Regions from separate parts of the Homo sapiens genome. Here region 2 is linked to region 1. Evidence: fine-mapped expression QTL. Tissue or cell type: adrenal gland. Region 1 holds a variant in brackets; the other region holds the start of a gene. All regions are shown on one strand. Distances are between the middles of the regions.

Region 1 (10,776 bases):
ATTTGTCCATCAATGGACATTTAGTTTTTTTCCATATCCTGGCTATTGTGAATGATACTGCAATGAACATGGGAATGTAGACATTTTTATGAGGTGCTTATTTCATCTCCTTTGGGTATATGCCCAGAAGAGGTGCTGCTGGGTCGTATGGTGGTTCTATTTTTAATTTCTTTAGGAGCATCCATTCTCTTTTCCATAATGGCCCTACCAACATACATTTCCACCAATTGTGCATTTGGGTTCCCTTTTCTCAGCATCCTCACCAACATTTGTTATTGCTTCTCTTTTTGATAATAGCCATCCTTACGAGTGTGAAGTGATATCTCATAATAGTTTTAATTTGCATTTCCCTTTGATTGGTATGAGCACCTTTTCATAGACCTGTTGGACATTTTTGTATCTTTGGAGAAATGTCTGTTCAGGTACTTTGTCCATTTTTTTTTTTTTTTTTTTTTAGCAGAATCTTGTTCTGCCACCCAGGCTGGAGTGCAGTGGCATGATCTCAGCTCACTGCAACCTCCACCTCCCAGGTTCAAGAGATTCTCCTGCCTCAGCCTCCCGAGTAGCTGGGACTACGGTTATGTGCCACCACGCCCAGCTAATTTTTGTATTTTTAATACAGACGGGGTTTCACGGTGTTAGCCAGGATGGTCTTGATATCCTGACCTCGTGATCTGCCTGCCTCGGCCTCCCAAAGTGCTATGATTACAGGCATGAGCCACAGCACCTGGCCTTCTTTGCCCATTTATAAATCGGGTTTTTTTGTTTTTCTACTATTGAGTTGTAAGAGTTCTTTATAAATTTTGGATGCTAGGCCCTTGTCAGATATGTGGTTTATAAAAACTTTCCCAGTCCAGGCCAGGCACGGTGGCTCACGCCTGTAATCCCAGCACTTTTGGAGGCCGAGGCGGGCAGATCACCTGAGGTCAGGAGTTCGAGACCAGCCTCAACATGGAGAAACCCCATCTCTACTAAAAGTACAAAATTAGCTGGGCGTGGTGGTGCATGCCTGTAATCCCAGCTACTCGGGAGGCTGAGGCAGGAGAATTGCTTGAACCTGTGAGGCGGATGTTGTGGCGAGCCAAGATGGCGCCATTGCACTCCAGCCTGGGAAACAAGAGCAAAACTCCCTCTCAAAAAAAATACAAAGTAAAAATAAATAAATAAAAAAAACTTTCCCAGTCCATACGTTGTCTTTCAGATTCTCTTTAAATTATTTCTTATGAGGAAACAAAAATAGTCAATTTATAGTAATCAGGGCAAAGTTATCTTTTAAAAATACATGAACATGATTAGCTACTTTAAAACAAGTTACAACTTTAGACTTTGGCTTTTTCATAATGTAATGCCAGGTTCTCATGAAATGATAATATGATAGGACTGTTCAAACTAGGATACTGGCTTCATTCTTTCCTTTTTAAATTAACTCAGGCAGTGTATCTAAAACTAAATGCCGTGGGCCCTTGTTTTGGGGGCTTTCTTAGTTTTCTCTGCCAATTACGGTTTGTGTTTTTACTATGCAACATTGTTCAACAGGAACAAGTTTAAAACATTTAGTATCCAACAAGTGCTAACCAAACAAAAGTGAATAATGGAATTCTAGGCTTTGTCCCAGCTCCTCCCATTCTCTCCTCAAGGATGACAAATGCTTAAGTAATAAGAATCAATTTTGTGAGTAATTTTTGAGTTCCATCTGATTACTGTTAATAGTCACAACTTGAAAGCATGAGAATACATTTGAAGGCAAAAACTTTTGCTACAGCAAGTTTGGTGGTCTATGCTAACATTCCTTTAACTATTTCCACCAGCTTTACCATAATCATATGATAGAATGCATGCTAACACAAGAGCTTGCTGCATATAAAACATGCTTGAGACTAGGCCAAATACATAATCCAAGCATTTCTATTCTATGGAAGATTTCTTTTCCTTTAAGTTTTTGTTATTTTTTGTGTTTTATAGTCACCATAGAAATTGTAGTATACACAAATTATATACTATAATACTTATTGCAGTCTCCACCTATTTCTTTAAGGGGAGAAACTCCCCAAACATAAAAGCCTGCAGTTTTGTGAGTTTTGACAAACGTGTACACATATGAAACCACGATCCCATCAGAATAGGATGTGATTATCTCTGGAAAATGCCCTCATACTCTCTTCTCCGATAATTACCACCCCTTCTCCCAACCTTTAGAGACAGCCAATGTTATGATTTTTTCCCAAACCACAGATTTGCTTATAATAGAACTGTTTATATTAATGGACTTACAGAGTATGTACTCTTTTGTGCCTGGCTTTTGCTACAGATAATGTCTGAGAGATTCTTCTATGTCCTTGAATGTAATGGTAGGTTCTTTTTTCTTTTATTTTTTTTCCCGAGAATTTTTCCATTGAATGAATACACCAAAATTTGTTTATGCCTTGTCGTGCTGATGGACATTTTGGTTGTCTATAGTTTTCAGCTATTATAAATAAAGCTGCTATGGACATTTTTGTACAAGGTATTGTTCTCTTGGCTAAATTAGTTCTCTTGGCTAAATTAGTAGGGATGCAATTGCTCGACCATATTGTAAGTATATATTTAATCTATAAGAAACTGCCAAACCTTTCCCCAAGTTTGTTGTACCATTTTACATTCCAACCAGCAACATATGAGTTTTCCAGTTGCTCCCCAACCTAATATACTGTCAGGTATTTAATTTTAGCAATTCTCATCCATGTATTGTAGCATTTCATTGTGGCTTTCATTTGCATTTCCCTGATAATTAATGAGGCTGAATAATTTTAAACGGTGCCTTTTAGCCATTCATACAGCCTTTTGAAATAATTTTTCAAATCATTTTAAAATTCAAATTTTAAAATTTGCATGTTCATTTTAATAGAGTCTTTTGATGAGCAGAAGTTTTAAATTTTGATGAAGTCCATTAATTCTTTTCTTTTATGGTTATTGCACTCTATGTCATTCTTGAGAAATCTTTGTCTAACCTCAGGTCAGGGAGATATTATCCTATGATTTCTTCCAAAAGATTTCTAGTTTTAGACTTTGTGTTTGGTTTTATGATCCACCTTGAATTAATTTCTGTGCATGGTACGAAGAAGGAGTTAAAGTTCATTTTTTTTCTCTCCTGGCATATACCCCATTGTTTAAACACTATTTGTTGATAAGAATATCCTTGGATTTCAGGATAGCTAAAGACAATGGTAGTTGCTTAGGTTCCTGTCTCCCAACTTTTCCCCCCAAAATAACACAGAAAAACAAGAAGGTAAGAAAAGCAAAAACAAAATAAACCTATCCCAAAACAATGACCTCAGCATTATGTAAAGACAGAGAATGCTCATATCTCAAAATAACTTGAAATTTTAAGAATAAAATTGTAAATGTCCAGTAAGCAATCTCTTGCTGTCCTATCCTACTGTAAGTCTTTGTGGCAAGAAAAAACAGGTCATGAAAAACTATGGGAAGAGAGGAGAGAGAAAATGATGGCCATAAGATTGACCTTACCAACTTCCAAAAGTAAGTCTGCAGGAGAAAAGACCAGAGCATGGTTTGCAGGGAAGGGACTTAACAGCATGTATGATGTGAAGTGACAGTTTTTGAAACCTATAGCCTCTGTAGGAGAAAAAATCAAAACAGAAAGAAGTGACCCTTAGAAATTAGATGGTCAAAAAGAATGTAGCAAAGGGATAAATTTTTGAGTAGTTCATGTATTACAAAAGACAAACAAAATACGAGGAAACAAACAATCCCTTTTCCTCCACTGCAGAAATAACCCACTAAGGAATCTGGACTTTGTTATACTGAATGAAGGTAGTGCCACCGAAGCAGGAATCTTGTAAAGTTCCTCAGTACTACAAACATATGAAACTGCCCCAATAGTCCCATAGACTGTTCTTTTGGATAAACATAGAAATTAACCTTTCCGATCTTAAAGCTTCAAGCTTACATTTGTTTTCTTTGAGGAAAGGACCTTCTGGCCTCTTTAAAAAAGCATCAAAAAACCGAATCTCACCAGATCACCACATCCTCACAATGAGATGACAGGCCCCTCATTCATTATGATTGCTTCCTAGCCCTTTCCTAGTTCTTGAACATTGTTATATTTCTTTCTTGCTATATAAACTCCTAGTTTTAGTCAGTCAGGGAGATGGATCTGAGACTGAGCTCCCATCTCCTGTAGCACCTAATTAAAGCCTTCTTCCTTGGCAATATCTGTCATCTCAGTGATTCGCTTTCTGTGCAGTGAGCAGCAGGACCTAGATCAAACCCTGTGTGTTTTGGTAAAAAATGAAATAAATAATACAGAGTTATGAAAAATTACAAAATGAACTCTGATATGCCTCAACTAGGGAAAAATCCTTCCCTCAAAAACAGAATTCATGAGCCAGAAGAGATGATAATCCCTCAGAGTGATAATTTGTTGTACAGTTTGTGGACTTAAAGGAATTTACTGTTTAGCACATTTTAAGTTTTAATTTTTTTTTTTTTTTTTTTTTTTTAAGAAATAGTGTCTCACTGTGTCACTCAGGCTGGAGTGCCATGGCACCGTCATTGCTCAATGCAGTCTCAAACTCTTGCGCTCAAGCAGTTCTCCCACTTTGACCTCCTGAGTAGCTGGGGCCACAGGCACGCACCATCATGACTGGCTAGTTATTTATTTATGTATTTGTTTTGTAGAGATGGGGGTCTCACTATGTTGCCCAGGCTGGTTGAACTCCTGGGCTCAAGCAATCCCCCTGCTTCAGCTTCCCAAAGTTCTGGAATAAAGGCATGAGCCACCAAACCTGGCCTATTTAGCATGTCTTAATATTGTCCTTAGTATTTAATCTTTTAAGGACTCTTTGCATATCTTAACCTCTAATATTCCATTCACTATTGTCTCAAGTTAATACAATACCTGTTCCATTCTATTTTCTAGGACGATAATGAGGTTTGATGATTTTGGACTTCAAAGAAAGGGGAGAAGAACATATGTATTGTGACTTGGTACAAAATGCCAAATACCTTCTAACAGTAATGTCAATTTTCCCCTGAAAATTTGGTCAAAAGATTGAATGAGTGGCCAGAAAAGACTCTAATACTGGAATTAGAATTCCAGGACTATAAAGAGGAAGTCTCACATAGGTTAGGATATCACAATTTTACATAAAATAAACTGGGCAGATTTTCACCTCAGAGAACTTTGAAAATTATGCTAATGCTAAAATTTGAAAGCTATTTATACATTAAGGGGAAGATACAAATCTAGGCTGTAAAGGATTAACTACTGTAGATGCATATCGGAATTACAACACTGTTAGTTCCAAAGGGAAACCAAAGAAGTTTTTATACGGTGTGGGAGTACATGAATGTTTACTAAGAATTTGTCAGCATTATATAATACTGACTAAATGATAGCCTCCTTCCTGTATTTGGAGGACACAGATGTTCAAATCACTAAGCAATGTGC[T/C]CTTCAAGGTGGATGGGCTACTTAACTCAGGCTGTCAGGTTGCCTAAGTAACCATTACGTAAGAACACTTATCTTCCTGTGCTGATTCAACATACGTTAAACAACTGAGACTAAAAACCTACTAGGATGTGAACACTTGAAGGTTGGGTTTCTCTTATTTACTATTATATTAATGCCAGGACAGTGTCTAGAAACTAGTAGACACACAAAAAATTAGTTCATGAAACAAAGAAGGCTTATATACAGCTGCTATACTTTTTATCTTGTATTCCAATACTTGGCAAATACTAGCAGTTGAATTAATGTTTATTGAATTGAATTCCTAACTTGCATTCCTTGAAATAGTAGGCTAGGAACTATAAAATAAAAATAGACATGTACCAGCTGGGCGCAGTGGCTCACGCCTGTAATCCCAGCACTTTGGGAGGCTGAGGAGGGCGGATCATGAGGTCAAGACATGGAGACCATCCTGGCCAACATGGTGAAACCCCGTCTCTATTAAAAATACAAAAATTAGCCGGGCATGGTGGTGCGCACCTGTAGTCCCAGCTACTCAGGAGGCTGAGGCAGGAGAATTGCTTGAATCCAGGAGGCGGAGGTTGCAGTGAGCCGAGATTGCGCCACTGCACTCCAGCCTGCCAATAGAGCAAGACTCCATCTCAAAAAAAAAAAAAAAAAGAAGACATGTACCATAAAGTGTTAGAAGTCGCTGATAGAAAACTACATGTTTTTTTGTGGGAATCCAAAGATATGACTTTAAATATTCATCTGAACTCACTTATTCTACTGGTGGTTTTCAGTAACTATTGAATTTAATTTTTGATATTAAAGGCATACTTATTGGTATTCCTGAAACTATTTTGATATTTCCCAGCCCACAATTGTATATCTAGTAAAATTAATATTTTAAAATCTGATCTGCTCATATTATTTTAATGTAAAAAGGATTGTTGATTTTGAGCAATCTTTTCCACTCTTGTGGCTTTATAGGCCAGATGGTGTATAAAGCTTGTTATTCTATAAGCTTAGTGTTCTTCAAATATATATCTTTAATTTACACTTCTCTCAAGCTCCAGACTCTTAAGTCCTACAGAAAAATCGACATATTAACTTTCTTTCTTCAGAAAACATATCATATGTGCCCTGTGTGGAATCGGCTATCCTCCTTTAACTTTCTCTTCAGGGCCTAGTGTCTCTGCTCATTCAGAGCTTCAACAGCCAGTTTCCCAAAGCTAGTACTTTTCAGTGACTTTTCAGTGTTTCCATCTTACTCTCCACTGGGCCTACAGTAAAATATATGAATAAAAAGTAATGTGGTACTGAGAAAGTGAGACGGCCCAGGGGTTAGTGCAGGCTTTGCCAGTCACTGCCACTGTAGCCTAGTGCGTGCCCACAGTCTCACTGCTCCCCTCTTTAATTATGCTAAAAGTCAGATGTGCCAGTGGATAATTGCTAGGATTCTGTGAAAGGAAAATAAATCTTGGGGCCCCCAAATCACTAAGCTAAAGGGGAAAGTCAAGCTGGGAACTGCTTAGGGCAAACCTGCCTCCCATTCTATTCAAGTTATCCCTCTGCTCACTGAGATAAATGCATATCTGATTGCCTCCTTTTTAAAGGCTAATCAGAAACTCAAAAGAATTCAGCTGTTTGTCTCTCACCTACCTATGAATGGAAGCCCCTTCTCTGCTTGAGTTGTCCCACCTTTCCAGATGGAACCAATGTACATCTTACATATGTTGATTGATGTCTCATGTCTCCCTAAAATGTATAAAACCAAGCTGTGCCCTGACCACCTTGGGCACAAGTCATCAGGACCTCCTGAGTCTGTGTCATGGGCATGCATCCTCAACCTTGGCAAAATAAACTTTCTAAATTAACTGAGACCTGTCTCAGATATTTGCAGTTCACATTTTGGTAACCACGAAGGGATTCTGAGTGAAGGTGCCCCTGACCTTTGACAAATCTCCTATTGGTGCTTGGTACCAGCTTGAGCTATCTTTGTGGGTCTAACCAATAGGACAATTTGCTGAGGCCTGGAAGTGCTCCCTCCAGAGCATCCCTGATCTTCCAATATTTGGTCAAGATCTAAAGTTTATTGCTGTACAACTCTTTTTTTTTTTTCTTGGAGTTTTACTTGTTTCCAAAACAAGGAAGGCAAGTTTTTCCTGCTTCCATGACAATGGAAGGCAGGTAACTCCTGTATGGAGTTTGAACTCACTTCCAAGAGGAAAGACAAATTTGAGATTTTCCTGCTTCTAGGATGGTAGAGAGCAGTCTTAAGTCTGAGACCTATCCCTGGGTGAGTAACTGAATTGGTGTTTGTCTTGGCTAAAGTTAAGATTTTAGCCAAGACAAACCAGCTGATCTTAATTTCACCTTACCATTAACACACTCCGTAATCTTACAAGTTGCGCCATTGTTTGTTTTGCTTAATTTTTGTTGTTGTTGTTTGCTTGTTTCTGTTTTTGTTGTTATTTCCATATTTTCTCCATTGGGTTTGATCAACTCTGACTTGATCAAATACAAAGGAAAGTTCCAAATTATGAGGAACAAGGCCTCTGAAGTGGCTAAATTCCCATAAGAAAACAATGACAACAACAAGGTGGTGTGGTCGGGGGCGGGGGGAGAAAAACATACAGCAAAAGGAAAACAGAAAGGAGAGATTCTGCTTTTGATTACTCGAGGGGCTTTATTTACATAGCAATACCACCTTTTTGCTAGCCAGGCCAAACTGAAAGAGCAATGGCTGTTGCCCCATGCTGCAGTTCCATAGCTAAGAGTTCTGCCTTCTATTTTTCCACCATGACAGCCTGGGTTTGGTGCCTAAATCAAGCCCTTTCTGTTTGGATACTTGGCACTTCTGAAACAGCAGCAATTTGTCCGAGCTGAAATATGGTAAATAGATTAAAACATTTTTTTTGAAGGAGCTCAGTGGTTAAAAGTCAGCTTAATTAAAAACTAACATCCAAAATGTGTGTGCGTATGTCTGCATGTGTGTGTTTTTGTATTTAAAAGGCCTTCACCTTTTTTATTTTGTGTGCGTGTGTGTTTTGTTTTTTTTTTTTTCTCTTAGGACTTTGTCTTTTTCATCTCATTTGACTGAATTATGTTTCCTTCATTTACTTCTGCTGTCTCTCCTTTCTCTTGCACCCTGTGCTGCATGAGGGACCTAAAATAGTTTATAATAGCCTGGGGTTCCTTAAGGAAAATGGAGAAGGTGCCAGACTCTCTTTTGGGGAAAAACCACTGTTTTTACTTATGGAACTCCAAGAGTGTTTTCCAAACAGACAAGTTCATCTCAGCTCTTAAACTGCTTGCTTTTGTATTATGTTACCGGATTTTTTGACTAAAATAATTATTGCAATAGAGGTTACTCTTGGGTTTTTAAGGAAGTAAAGTTTAGATACTTGTGTTACCTGATTTTTTGACTAAAATAGTTATTGCAACATAGGCTATACTTGGGTTTTTAAGAAAGTGAAGTTTAAACAAATGTTTTTGTTTAAAAAAATTTTTTTAAAGTGCACTGTAAAAGCATCACGAGGTCTAGCTTCATAATAATTCTCCCTTTTTAGAGATCCAGGATTCAGTGTGGACTCTGCCCAGAGTTCAGAGATCCAGTTAGAAGATAGATAGTCCCTATCTAAATAAAATTGTTCTCCTCATGCAATCCTGTGATAGATTTCTACAATTTTATGTTTGATTTAGCATCTATCTTTAATCTCCCTGTAGCATCACCAGACCTTTTTTCTCTGTACCTTGAGATGTAAATTTTGCTAATCTGATTTTTAATCTAAGAGTTGTTTCCTTCAATATGCAAATTTAGGGCTGTTTACCTGACAACTGCCAGGATAATGAATCAGTTTATCAAGAGTTTGCAAGTCTAAGATACGGAAAAAAAAAGGAGGTCGTAGGAATTCATAAAGTGTATTTTTATCATTATGCCTAACACATCTATGTATTTGTGTGTTCTCTACACAATATTTCACTACTAAAATATATAAAAGAGCTCTTATTAATTGGCTTCAAGAAAAATAAAAGTCCTTAAATCAAATACTTCATCGGAGAAAAAGGAAAGACTAGTCAAATGCTTTTTCAATTTTATGTGACTTAAGTAAAATCTTTAATAAATAAGGTAGCTTAAAATTATTAGTAAAGTAGTATTAGAAATGTCTTAAAAATTATTATCAAGCAATTGCATACTTATCCCTGCCAAATACTATAAGGTGTCAAAATTTGGCATAGGGTTTATAAAACTATAAACACAGCCCAAAATGGAATGATCTTTCTTGTGTAATTTTTAATAGATAAGATATTGATATTGGTTTAATGAAAATAGCTACATCTCAAATTATTTAATAAAATTACCACAACCCATAATCTTCTGGCTTTAGGCAGTCCAGACCACAGGCAATAAGGAGGTTTGTTTGTAAGAGGACTGTTACCATCTTTTTTCAAAGCTAAACTATAAACTAAGTTCCTTCCAAAGTTAGTTCAGCCTATGCCCAAGAATGAACAAGGACAGCTTGGAGGTTAGCAGCAAGATGGAGTCAGTGAGGTCATATCTTTTTTAATGTCTCAGTTATAATTTTGCAATGGGGAGTTTCATAACTTTAAATGATGCCTATCACAGTTTTCATAATCTTGGTAAATGATTAAAATAAAATAATTAGGTAAATGTAATGGGATAAACACTTGTAAACAAACTTGTCATAATTTAGAATCAAAATTTATATTAAATTAAATAATATATATTTCATTATTTGGGTATTTTCCAATAAAAATATATTGTAGGAAAACATTCTGTCTAAAAAACAAACAAACAAACAAAACCCAAAAAAAGTTAATATGATCAAGTTGTCTATAATTAAAGGGATTTATAGTGGTCTTTCTAGAGATTAAATTTGATGATAAAAACACTTATACACAAAAGAATTGATTAGAACAATAAAATTTTCTTAAAGGATTGATTTACTCTTAATGAATTATAAGAGATTTTAATTTGTTTTAAACCCAAAGTTCAACTTGTATTGTTTCTTGATGTTTTCTGTTTTCTCTTCTCTTTTAGAAAGTGCGAAATAGTAATGCTCTTCTTCAACTTATTTTCAGATCATAAAAGTTTTTATTCCTTCAAGTTCTATTCGCTGTGGGCTGATGCTAGCAACGTTTTCTTTCTCTTTTTTTTTTTTTTTTTTGAGACTGTGTCTTGCTCTGTAGCCCAGGCTGGATGGAGTGCAGTGGTGAGATCTAGATTCACTGAAATCTCCACCTCCCAGATTCAAGCAATTCTACTGCCTCAGCCTCCTGAGTAGCAGGGATTACAGGCATTT
Region 2 (10,240 bases), 81 kb before region 1:
CAATGTGTGGTTTGTGGACTAGAAGCATCAATCTGGCAGCTTGGTAAGAATGCAGAATTTTGCAGACACCACAGACTAACTGAATAAGAATCTTAACTTTAACATATTCTTACATGATTTGTATGCACATTGAAGTTCTATAAGCAGTAACTTAATGGGGTACATTTTAGAGAACTGAGCTAAGATCCTAAGCTAAGAGCTCGTTGAAGTCAGTTAGAGCAAGCAATGTCTCTTAGTCCCTGAGAAGCTACTGAAGCTCTGTAGCTTAGACTATTGGTAAACATCCTTTTCCATAAGCCATATTAAATTCATAAAGTGTTATGTTAATACAAATATTCTTGTGTATTCAGATCTATTATGCATGTTTGGGGGAGTTTTTATATCTTAGTAAAAGTCTACTTTTCATTCAGTTGATTTTATTTGATTACTGAAACTTCGATGTTTACTATTTCCTTCTTCTTTCTCACTATTATTACTACTTCAGATTACTAGGATTACTAGTTTGTATAAAACTATGTTCAAACAGGATAAAGTTGGCATGGATTCTGAGGCCTGAATGTCTTTCATTACACTGTCCAATCACATGTCTATTGTTTCTCAAAGCAGCCTTTGACAGAGTTCTAATTGATTTAAACTGTTTCCCCGGGCCTTTGATCATTCATTCTACTTCTATTATTTTACACTATGGATAAAAATTGTGGTTGTTTTTCTACATGACGGAAATATATTCTCAGGTGTCCAGACCAACATATCAAGTCCTTAAAAAAAGTAGGTCAGCATAAGCTTTATTTTGATTGAAATAAATTCATATAATCATTAACAACCACCAGACATATTGGGGAAGACATGGATTAATCAGTTGCCATATAGATAAATTACTATGCTAGTTGTTTACTAAAAACATTTTCAAGATTTCCTAATATGTACCTTTTACACTCACTGTACGGGAATGGAAGAACAACAAACACAAACTGTTTATTTTTCATGGATTTTTTTTTTTTTGAGTCGGAGCCTCGTTCTGTCCCCCAGGCTGGAGTGCAGTGGCCTGATCTCAGCTCACTGCAAGCTCCACCTCCCGGGTTCACGCCATTCTCCTGCCTCAGCCTCCAGAGTAGCTGGGACTACAGGCGCCCACCACCACGCCCGGCTAATTTTTTGTATTTTTAGTAGAGACGGGGTTTCACCGTGTTAGCCAGGATGATCTCTGTCAGGCCTCTGAGCCCAAGCTAAGCCATTATATCCCCTGTGACCTGCACATATACATCCACATGGCCTGAAGTAACTGAAGAATCACAAAAGTAGTGATACTTAAATGGCCTGTTCCTGCCTTAACTGATGACATTCCACCACAAAAGAAGTGAAAATGGCCGGTCCTTGCCTTAACTGATGACATTACCTTGTGAAATTCCATCTCCTGGCTCATCCTGGCTCAAAAAGCTCCACCACTGAGCACCTTGTGACCCCCACTGCTGCCCACCAGCGGGCAACCCCCCTTTTTCCTTTACCTACCCAAATCTTATAAAATAGCCCCACCCCTATTTCCCTTTGCTGACTCTCTTTTCCGACTCAGCCAGCCTGCACCCAGGTGAAATAAACAGCCTTGTTGCTCACACAAAGCCTGTTTGGTGGTCTCTTCACACAGACGCGAGTGAAAGTCTCGATCTCCTGACCTCGTGATCCGCCCGCCTCGGCCTCCCAAACTGCTGGGATTACAAGCGTGAAGCCACTGCACCCGGCCTTTTTTCATGGAATCTTAAAAATGTTTCTTAAAATCTCAAATTGGGTCCAGAAAATGTCCCCCAGTATTTTTTTTTTCTCCTTCCATTCTGAGTATGTTCTAACTCTTCATAACTCCACAGAAACAACCTTCACCTTTTGGAAAATGAGGGTGTTAAATATGTATGTCTAATTGCCGCTTTAATTTTCTTTCCTCATTCTGTTCTCCACCGTATTCCTTATACTCTGCCCTTACCAATGTATAGTATACCATCTTGTTTTCTGACATCCCATTGAATTCCAGGCTCAAGCAACAGACAGTCTACCTCTTGCTGACATTTATATGCTATGGTACTCTTTGTAACTTACCTAAACTCTCTTGGCTGTGATTTGTTCATTTGGAAAATAAGTTATGTTTAGATTATCTCCAAGAAACTTTTCATCTCATATTTTTATAATTTCCACACTGTCTAAACAATTTTAAAAGTTATAGGCAACATTAAATCCTGAAACTGGAAGAATCAATGTCATGTTTCCTTTAGATGCAAGCAAATGCTCATGTCCAGACAACATGTGGATTTCTCATGACCAACATGCCTTCCCGGGTCACTTATGTGTCTGAGTATTTTTCCTCCTCCACAATCATTTATCCTTAAGGAATGAGTTTATAGCCAAGGTATTAATTTTAAATACTGGGAAAAAAACAATTGTAGTTAAATGTCATTTATGAAACTATATAAATTGAGACAGAAATGGCTTTCAGATTGTTTATACTGTTCCTTATGCCATCAGCATGAATGTTGAGATCTGACCTGGCTCTATCCTTGATCCAAAATATCATGTGCAATCAACATAATTGTCCTCTGGTACAATATGTTCCTCTTGCATTGTGTTTACAAATCTGTTCTGCTCATGCTTGTCATCTGTGTTATAGGTCTTTATTAGCATTTTCAGATTTCAGTTATGTAATTTCCTTTACAATTTCTCTTAACTGTTGGTACACCACTTCCTTCTAACACGTCAGTTCATTTTCATTCTCTTACAGAATATTTTAAAATTTTAAAATAAATGTACATTTGATGTCCCTTTAAGAACAGGAGCACTGGAATAAGATTTGCAAAAGTTTTCAGACCCCTTGATTAAAAAGTGCCTTACAATTTACTCAGTCTCTTTGAATAAAACTTTGTGAAATACAAATATTTTACTTTTCTAGTTTTTCTCCAGAATTTTTGTTTCCTGTAAGTTTATTGGGGCACTCTCAAGTTCTCCAATAGATGTACAAAAAAAAAAAAAACAGCTTTATAATCAAAGCTGTTTATTGTGTATGCCAATATTGTCCCTGATACTTCACAAGTAGATTGGTCTATTTTAAGTGAGTAGCCGGAAACAGGAAAGCATTGAGGAAAGGCTGATAGAGATGTTTCTACTACAATTCTAACATTGTATACTTTATTATGATTACTATTATTATTATTTTAAAGTACTGTCTCATTGGGGAAAAAGCCGGAGAAAACATATGGTCAAAAGCATCTAGCACTTCTGTGATGATGCTCCTTGAACTTGTATTCTGATATGTTTAAACGAAAAACACTGCCACATTTGATTGTCATTGGACTCCAGCTTTCTGGGAGAAGTTGTTTGTCAACAGTACCTTACTTAACCTACTTTAATTTTCCAAGTTTTGTCTGCAATTTCAATCATTTAATAATTACTGCAGCAGCACTGTCTTTGAATACATAAAGGAATTTTGATTACATTAATGCTGCCAAATGACTACAATAAAAGGATTTCTCCAGCAGTCTTGCCTTTCTTTCGGTTTTACAGCTATTGGGCTGTCAGAAGGAAACGTATCAGTCCAAACTGTCTTTTGGAGCTTCAAGGTAGCTGCTCTCGAGGAGGCAGCGGAGGCGGCACCCAGGGCCCCCTGGCCGGGCTGCCTTCAGGTTGTTGCTTGTTGAGAGCACGTTCCCAGTTGACAGATTGATTCCCCTGTCTTACCTCTCAGTTGTTGCTGGTCAGCCACATCGCACTGGATGAACAGAGTCTTCTGAGGTTCAAACTGCTCATCCAGGGCAGCTTTACACTGTACACCTGCTTCAAGATTCCAATCCACCAGCGCTACCTATAGACAAGAGGAGAGGAATCGCGGGCCTGCGCAGCTCACGAAATAGACGGACAAACAATAAACACACAAGAGGCTCCCCTCCTGGACCTGAAATTTGGCAATTAGGTTTGGGTTCCCTCCCAGCCACTTCTGAGGTGTGCTCACAGCCTCAGCTTCAGCAAATTTTGGAAGTGGCAAAGTGGGCACGCCGGGCGCGGCCTCCCTGTCTCCGCCAGTGCACCTCGGGCGGCGGGGCGAGTCTCGGAGTGTGTGGGCAGAGAAATTTCCGCGGCTGGGCGCCGGGCTTACCTTGGCGCCCTTAAGCAGCAGCGCCTCTGCAAAGGCTCTGCCTATGCCCTGAGCCGCGCCGGTCACCAGCGCCACTTTGCCGTTCACGTGCATGGTGCAGCCACTGCTGGGGCGGGCGGTGGGCGAGCTCCGCGTCTCCGCGCGGCCGCGGCTTTTATGCCCCCCTGCGCGCGCGCGCGTGCAGCCCGGCGGGGCGCTCCCCTGCCAGTGGGCGGGGAGGAAACTGTCAAGCCAGCGCCCGCCGGGGAACCCACGACTGTGTCACCTGCCCCCTGAGCGTTCTGGAGCGCCAAGCTTCGCGATCTTTGCCTTCCGGACTCGCAGACCGGCTCAAAGCCTCCCCTCAGCCTCTGGCTCCGTGATTGGCAGGCAGCTGACAGAAGAAAAGTTAAAAGGTTATTTCTGAAGAAGAGTTTCCTTCAGTGCCCTAAAGACCAACTGGATAGAAGGAGAGCGGAGCAGAGGCTTGGAAGCTTGGATCCCTCCTCCTGCACTCCCTCCCGGCCCCGACTCCGGAACAAAACAAGCAAACAATAAAGCAAACTTGTTGCTCTTTTGTCTCAAAGTTTTGTGTGAGTTCCCATCTCGTAATCAGTGGGGTTGAGGGTGACGGGGAGCAGAAGTAACTAATATCATTGTGTTTTCTTAGTTACATTTTGGACAAATTTTTACGGATACTGGAGATGAGAAGTGGACTCTGCTCTGTCCTGAAAACCTGGAATCATAACATTTCATGGCTAGGACTAGAGTGTCCTTGGCGCTGTGTTTCTGGTCAGTGTCAATTGTGTGTCATATTGAGATGCCCCCACAAAAACTGTCATCATCAACAGGCGCTCCAGAGCCGCTGGTAGCCTACCAAATTGTTGGCTCAATGGAATGCTTACTTGTTGAAATACACCAACTTTGGAAGCTCTGAGTCAAGTTTGGGACAGAGGTTCCTTGCTCTCCAGGAACTCCAGGGCTAGCTGTATGCGGACTTGCATAAATAACAAGGGCTATTCCACTGACTTTGTCTCTTTTTCTCAGGTTGTCAGCGGCAGGCTGCAATTTTAATTCTGTAAACGTAAGTGGTTGGCTTTTTTTTTTTTTTTTTTTTTTTAATCTTGAGACAAGATCTCGCTCTGTCTGTTTGGCTAGAATGCAGTGGCATAATCCCAGCTCGCTGCAACCTCAATCTCCAGGGCTCAAGCGACCCTCCCACCTTGGACTCCCAAAGAGTGCTAAGATTACAGGCATGAGCCACTATGCCCAGCTGGCATTTATTTTCTTAAAGAAAAAAAAAATCTAAATACTTGGGGGAAATGGGAGTTGAGCAAAAGACTGACACTAACAGCAGAATGAATCATTTTTATATCTTCTTTACCTTCTTTACTGGGAAAGGTGGCTGGCTCAGCAGGGAAGGAGTGTATGAGGAGACTGTGTAAAATGTGTCTTGTCGCGTTGTTGGTAAGCCGCTAAGCAAATGTCTTTAACATTAATTTGAAATTAGGTCTTGACAAAATCTTGAGAAATTAAAACAGGAAAATAGATATTTGTACTCTAGGATGATAATTAAAATTGTAATATGAAGAGTAAATTGAGGGGTCATATTGAAAGGGAATAATAGTAGAAGACAAAAAGAAAACAAGGAACCAAACAAAACTTCAGCTCCTCTAATGGCATGCACAGAACATAGAAGTTTCTGATGAAGGAACTGGCAAAAAAGACAGAAAAGGAACTGCTGGGGTAAAATGGCAACATGCTGGGAGAACACAGGTTTGCAGCTCTTGTGGGAGAAATACTTTCAAGAAGAAAGAAGTAGTTAATAATGCAAAATACTCAGGTGAGCACCAGGGAATAAAGGATGGAGAAATATTTTGAATTTTTCAGGACAATATTTAGTGTGAGTAAATTTAGAAGGCACAAAAACTGAACAGCTGAAATGATCTGTGAGAAGATAGATATTGTCATGGACTGAAGACCAAGGTTACATGGAAAGAGAAATGGACTGGATAATAGTTGAAAAGATTAGACAGCAAACATGTTTTTCTTTTAAGAAAAGATAAGAAGATTGATTGAGGTCAAAGTGCAATGAGTCAAGGATAGTGACAACTGGAAGAACAGGAAGCAGTTTGGCGGTGGCGGATAGGTGAGGCACAAGGACGTCAGCACTGGATTCAGACAAACCGGGTTTGGATCTTGTGTCTGCTACTGACCAGCTGTGTAACCTTGGGCAATTTGCTTCAACTCTGGGTCTCAGATTCCTTATTATAAAGTAAGCTTTTCTAAAAAAAAAAAAAAAGGTGAAAATTAAAATAGGTGAAGCATATTAAACACTATTACAGAGCCTGCCACAAAGTATTAATACATTAATATTAGTCCCAACATATTACTTCTGAAATATTAATGAATAATAAATGTGAGATAGAGAAAAATGTGAAGAATAGGTTTTTTTAGTAGATAGCAAGGACTGAGGTCTAGAGAAAACTTAGTACCCCTTCATCCCTTTCCCTCCTCTCAATTTCCACTGCCACTGTCCAGATTCATATTTTCTCCTATGATAGCAAACAGCAGTTAGCTTCTCATTACCTCCAAATACGCCCCCCACTTTTTTTCGCATTGTGAGATGCTTTTATTACAGTGAATTAAACTGCTTACCAAACAGTGATCTTTGTAAGGAAGGATTTTTTCCCTTTTTAGTTGACATGGAATAACTGTGCATATTTATGTGATCTATATATACAGAGTGATATATATGTACGGAGTGATATATCAATACATGTATACAATGTATAGTGACAAAATCAGGATATTTGATTATTAGCATATTTATTAACTCAAATGTTTATCATTGCTTGTGTTGTGTACATTCAAAATCCTCTCTTCTGGCTTTTAGAACCTATACACTAAATTATTGTTAACCATATTCACCTTACATGTGTTCTAGAAAACACTAGAACTTATCCTCTAATCTAGCTGTTTCTTCGTATCCGTAAACCAGCCTCTCCCTATACACATCTCCCCTTACCCTTCCCAGCCTCTGATAACCACAATTCTACTCTCTACTTCTATAAGGTTTTTTTTTAGCTTTCACATATGACTAAGAACATGCAATATTTATCTTTCTGTACCTGACTTATTTCATTTAATTGCTCCACATTTCTTAAATCCAATTTACCTTCTGCACTTCTCCTAGGAAAATTTCTAAAACTGATCTGATCGTGTTTAGATATTCTCATGTTTAAAATCCTTAAAATATCTAAACTCCTGGGCATCACATCTGAGGTGTTCCATGCCCCATGTCTTTCTTGTGGCCCTTCTTTACATGCCAGGAAGCTGTGTGTCAGTCACAGGTTTAGCATCCCTGATCTAAAAATCTGAAATCCTAATTGCTCCAAAATCTGAGCCTTCCTGGACTGTGATGTAAGCAAGATATAAACTTCTTATCTGTTGAGCCTTTGCATGTTTGTTTCTATTTTCTATCACAGCCTAACCTAATATATCTCCCAATAGAAAAAATCCTCCCAAATGTCCCTGATGACTAAATCATGTAGAACACGGGGCAAATTAAATCTTTTTGGTAGATAGCCATCAGGGCAACCAAATTGGCTAACCTACTAGATCATTTATTGCCATAAAGTCTCCAAATAGACATAAATTACTTACTTATCTAGCAAAACAAAGATAGTGTCATTATACACTGCCTCCCTGGCCCCCACTCCTAAGCAATAATCTTTTTTAAATGAAAGTTTTTGTTAAAAAGTGCTCCAACAATCTGAAACATGACAAGTGGAAAATTCCACATGTAAGTACTAGATACAAACTTGGTTTCATGTACAAAATTATTAAAATGCAAAAGATTATTTTCAGGCTATATGTATAATATGTATGTGAAACAAATAAATTTTATGGTTAGACTTAGGTCTCAGCCCCAAGGTATCTCATTATGTACATGCAAATACAAAATCCCCCCAAAATTCTGAAATCTGAAATACTTCTAGTCCTAAGCATTTTGGATAAGGGACACTCACCTGTATAGCCTATAAATAAGAATGTTCTTACAAAATTATATGGATGATGGTTTATCTCAAATTTAACTTTGTTTTAGCTAAGAATTATGTTTTTAATAACACAAATCACTGTGATGACAGAAATATATAGCTGATGTAATGTCCTGAACATAGAAGCTGAGAAATGCATATAAAAATCAGAGGAGTGGGGAGATGTTGACTGGGTAAGCAGCCCTTTTTTGGTTTTATAATATACCACATATAATGTTCTATAGATATTTTAAATTCAAAATAGACTTTTAATATAAAATATGGGAACATTCTTCTCCAAAAACCCATTATCAATATATTTCTGTTATATAAAAAGATAATCACAACATATGGGAAATCTCACCATCCTATTAAAATTTTCCATCTTCTCTTGAACACATATCTCATATTTATATATACTTTTCTTTGGTCAGCGTGTATTGCGCGTGTACTTTGGGTGGCCCTGTGCTGCGTCAGCTGGAAGGGATCCAGAGAAAAAGACAGAGCCCTCTTTGAAGACATCCAGAGAGAGTAAGCTCCTTATGATCCTGTGATTGGTATTTCCATGGTAGAGATCTGATAGCTGCATAGGAAAACAGTTGAAGAAAGTGGGAGGGCAAAGATACTCAAGAGGAGCGGGTATCAAACGGCAAAGGCCTGAGGGCATGGAGAGTGGCTATGTTTTAACTGACACATGGCTTCCTAGCATGTAGAGAGCTGTATTTGATTTAGTTTTGCAAACGAAGTTCTCTTAAAAACAAATGCAGCGCAATGATGCAAAGTTAAGAGAGGTGATTATTCCTTTAATGCAATTACAAGTGTTGAGTGTTGAACATTTACTCAGAAGCAGCCATCTCTTACTGTCTACACATACAGCCTCTGGAATCAGACCGCTTGGGTTTTAATCCAGCTCTACCATCTACTAGCTCTGTGACTTTTGGATAGTTACTTAATTTATCTGAATCTCAGCTTCCTCATCAGTAAAATGAGGATAATAGCAGCACCTATTTCATAAAGTTGTTGTGAAGACTATACTAAGTTAGATACAAGTCAAGTGCTTAGACCAGTGACCGGCACATAGCAAATGTTATATAAATGCTATTATCATTAAGCACTATACATATATAATTGCGTTTATTATTTACAACCAAGCTGTGAGGTAGTTATTATTGTGGTAATTTTATAGATGAGCAAAACACGTTTAAGGAGTTTGGGGAATCTGGTCAAGGTCACTTATCTAGAAAATGAAGGAGGAGGCTTTGACACAAGGTGTGGCTGACTACTGAGTATTACTTCTTTTTTGAAAATTAAACTCTTAATTTTGAGATAACTGTAGCTGAGCAGTACTTTTAGCCCTGTCTGAATGGCGATTTATTTAAGAAATACAAGTTGAATATAGACTGAAATCAGCACTCTTTGAGCAAATATATATTTTCCCATACCCTAGTGTCTGTCAGCTCAGTTCTGACCTGTTAGGCCAGGCTAGTCTTAAATTGATTTTTCCTTTATCCCATGCACACTGGTGAGCACAGACATTCCAAGAAGCACTCAATCACAGGCCCAGGCTCAGAGGCAGGCCAGTCACTCACCTGATAGACATGTTTACTGAATTTTAAAATAATGACATATCAATCAATACAAAAATAAGCTTTTTCTTTATTGAAACAAACAAACAAAAACCACTGCTGGCATAAGACAGTTACTGCTAGTACTGGGGTCTGGGGCTTGTTTTGACTTTGCTACCACAAGCTACAATAGAGGAGCTGACTTTTTAAATAGCTACTATGTTTTTGTTCCTTTGTAAGTTATTTCATTTAGTTTTCTTGCTAACCCTGCAAGGTAAGTAGTAGTATCCTCATTTTACAGTTGAAGAAAATGAGCCTCATGGAAGACAAGGGACTGATACCAGAACTTAGCAACAAACTTGGGTACACATCCAAGTCACATGGCTCCAAAGCCTTTGCTTTGTCTACTCCACTGAATTCTCTTAGATCTACATTCAAATGCTGTCTCATCCCCTTTGCTAATTGTATGATCTTTGGGTGATTACGTAACCTCTCTGATCCTGTTTCCTGAGCTGTTAAAAGGGGAA

Evidence for each region. PIP is the estimated chance that this variant, and not a neighbour inherited with it, causes the effect.
Region 2: HPGD starts here. The variant in region 1 is fine-mapped to the expression of HPGD in adrenal gland (GTEx, PIP 0.98).

Annotation. Positions count from the first base shown.
Region 1 is chr4:174,598,936-174,609,711 of GRCh38, forward strand. No RefSeq gene overlaps it. Among named protein-coding and RNA genes, the nearest start is that of HPGD, 82 kb to the left of the region's middle. The variant T/C (reference allele first, on the strand shown) is at 5,450.
Region 2 is chr4:174,518,230-174,528,469 of GRCh38, forward strand. It overlaps HPGD (15-hydroxyprostaglandin dehydrogenase), which reads right to left and starts at 4,259. Exons shown (of 7, transcript NM_000860.6): 1 at 4,130-4,259; 2 at 3,715-3,838. The coding sequence starts at 4,222. It overlaps LOC105377548 (a long non-coding RNA gene), which reads left to right and starts at 4,384. Exons shown (of 7, transcript XR_007058492.1): 1 at 4,384-4,900; 2 at 5,156-5,192; 3 at 8,583-8,679. RefSeq lists an enhancer at 1,069-1,598.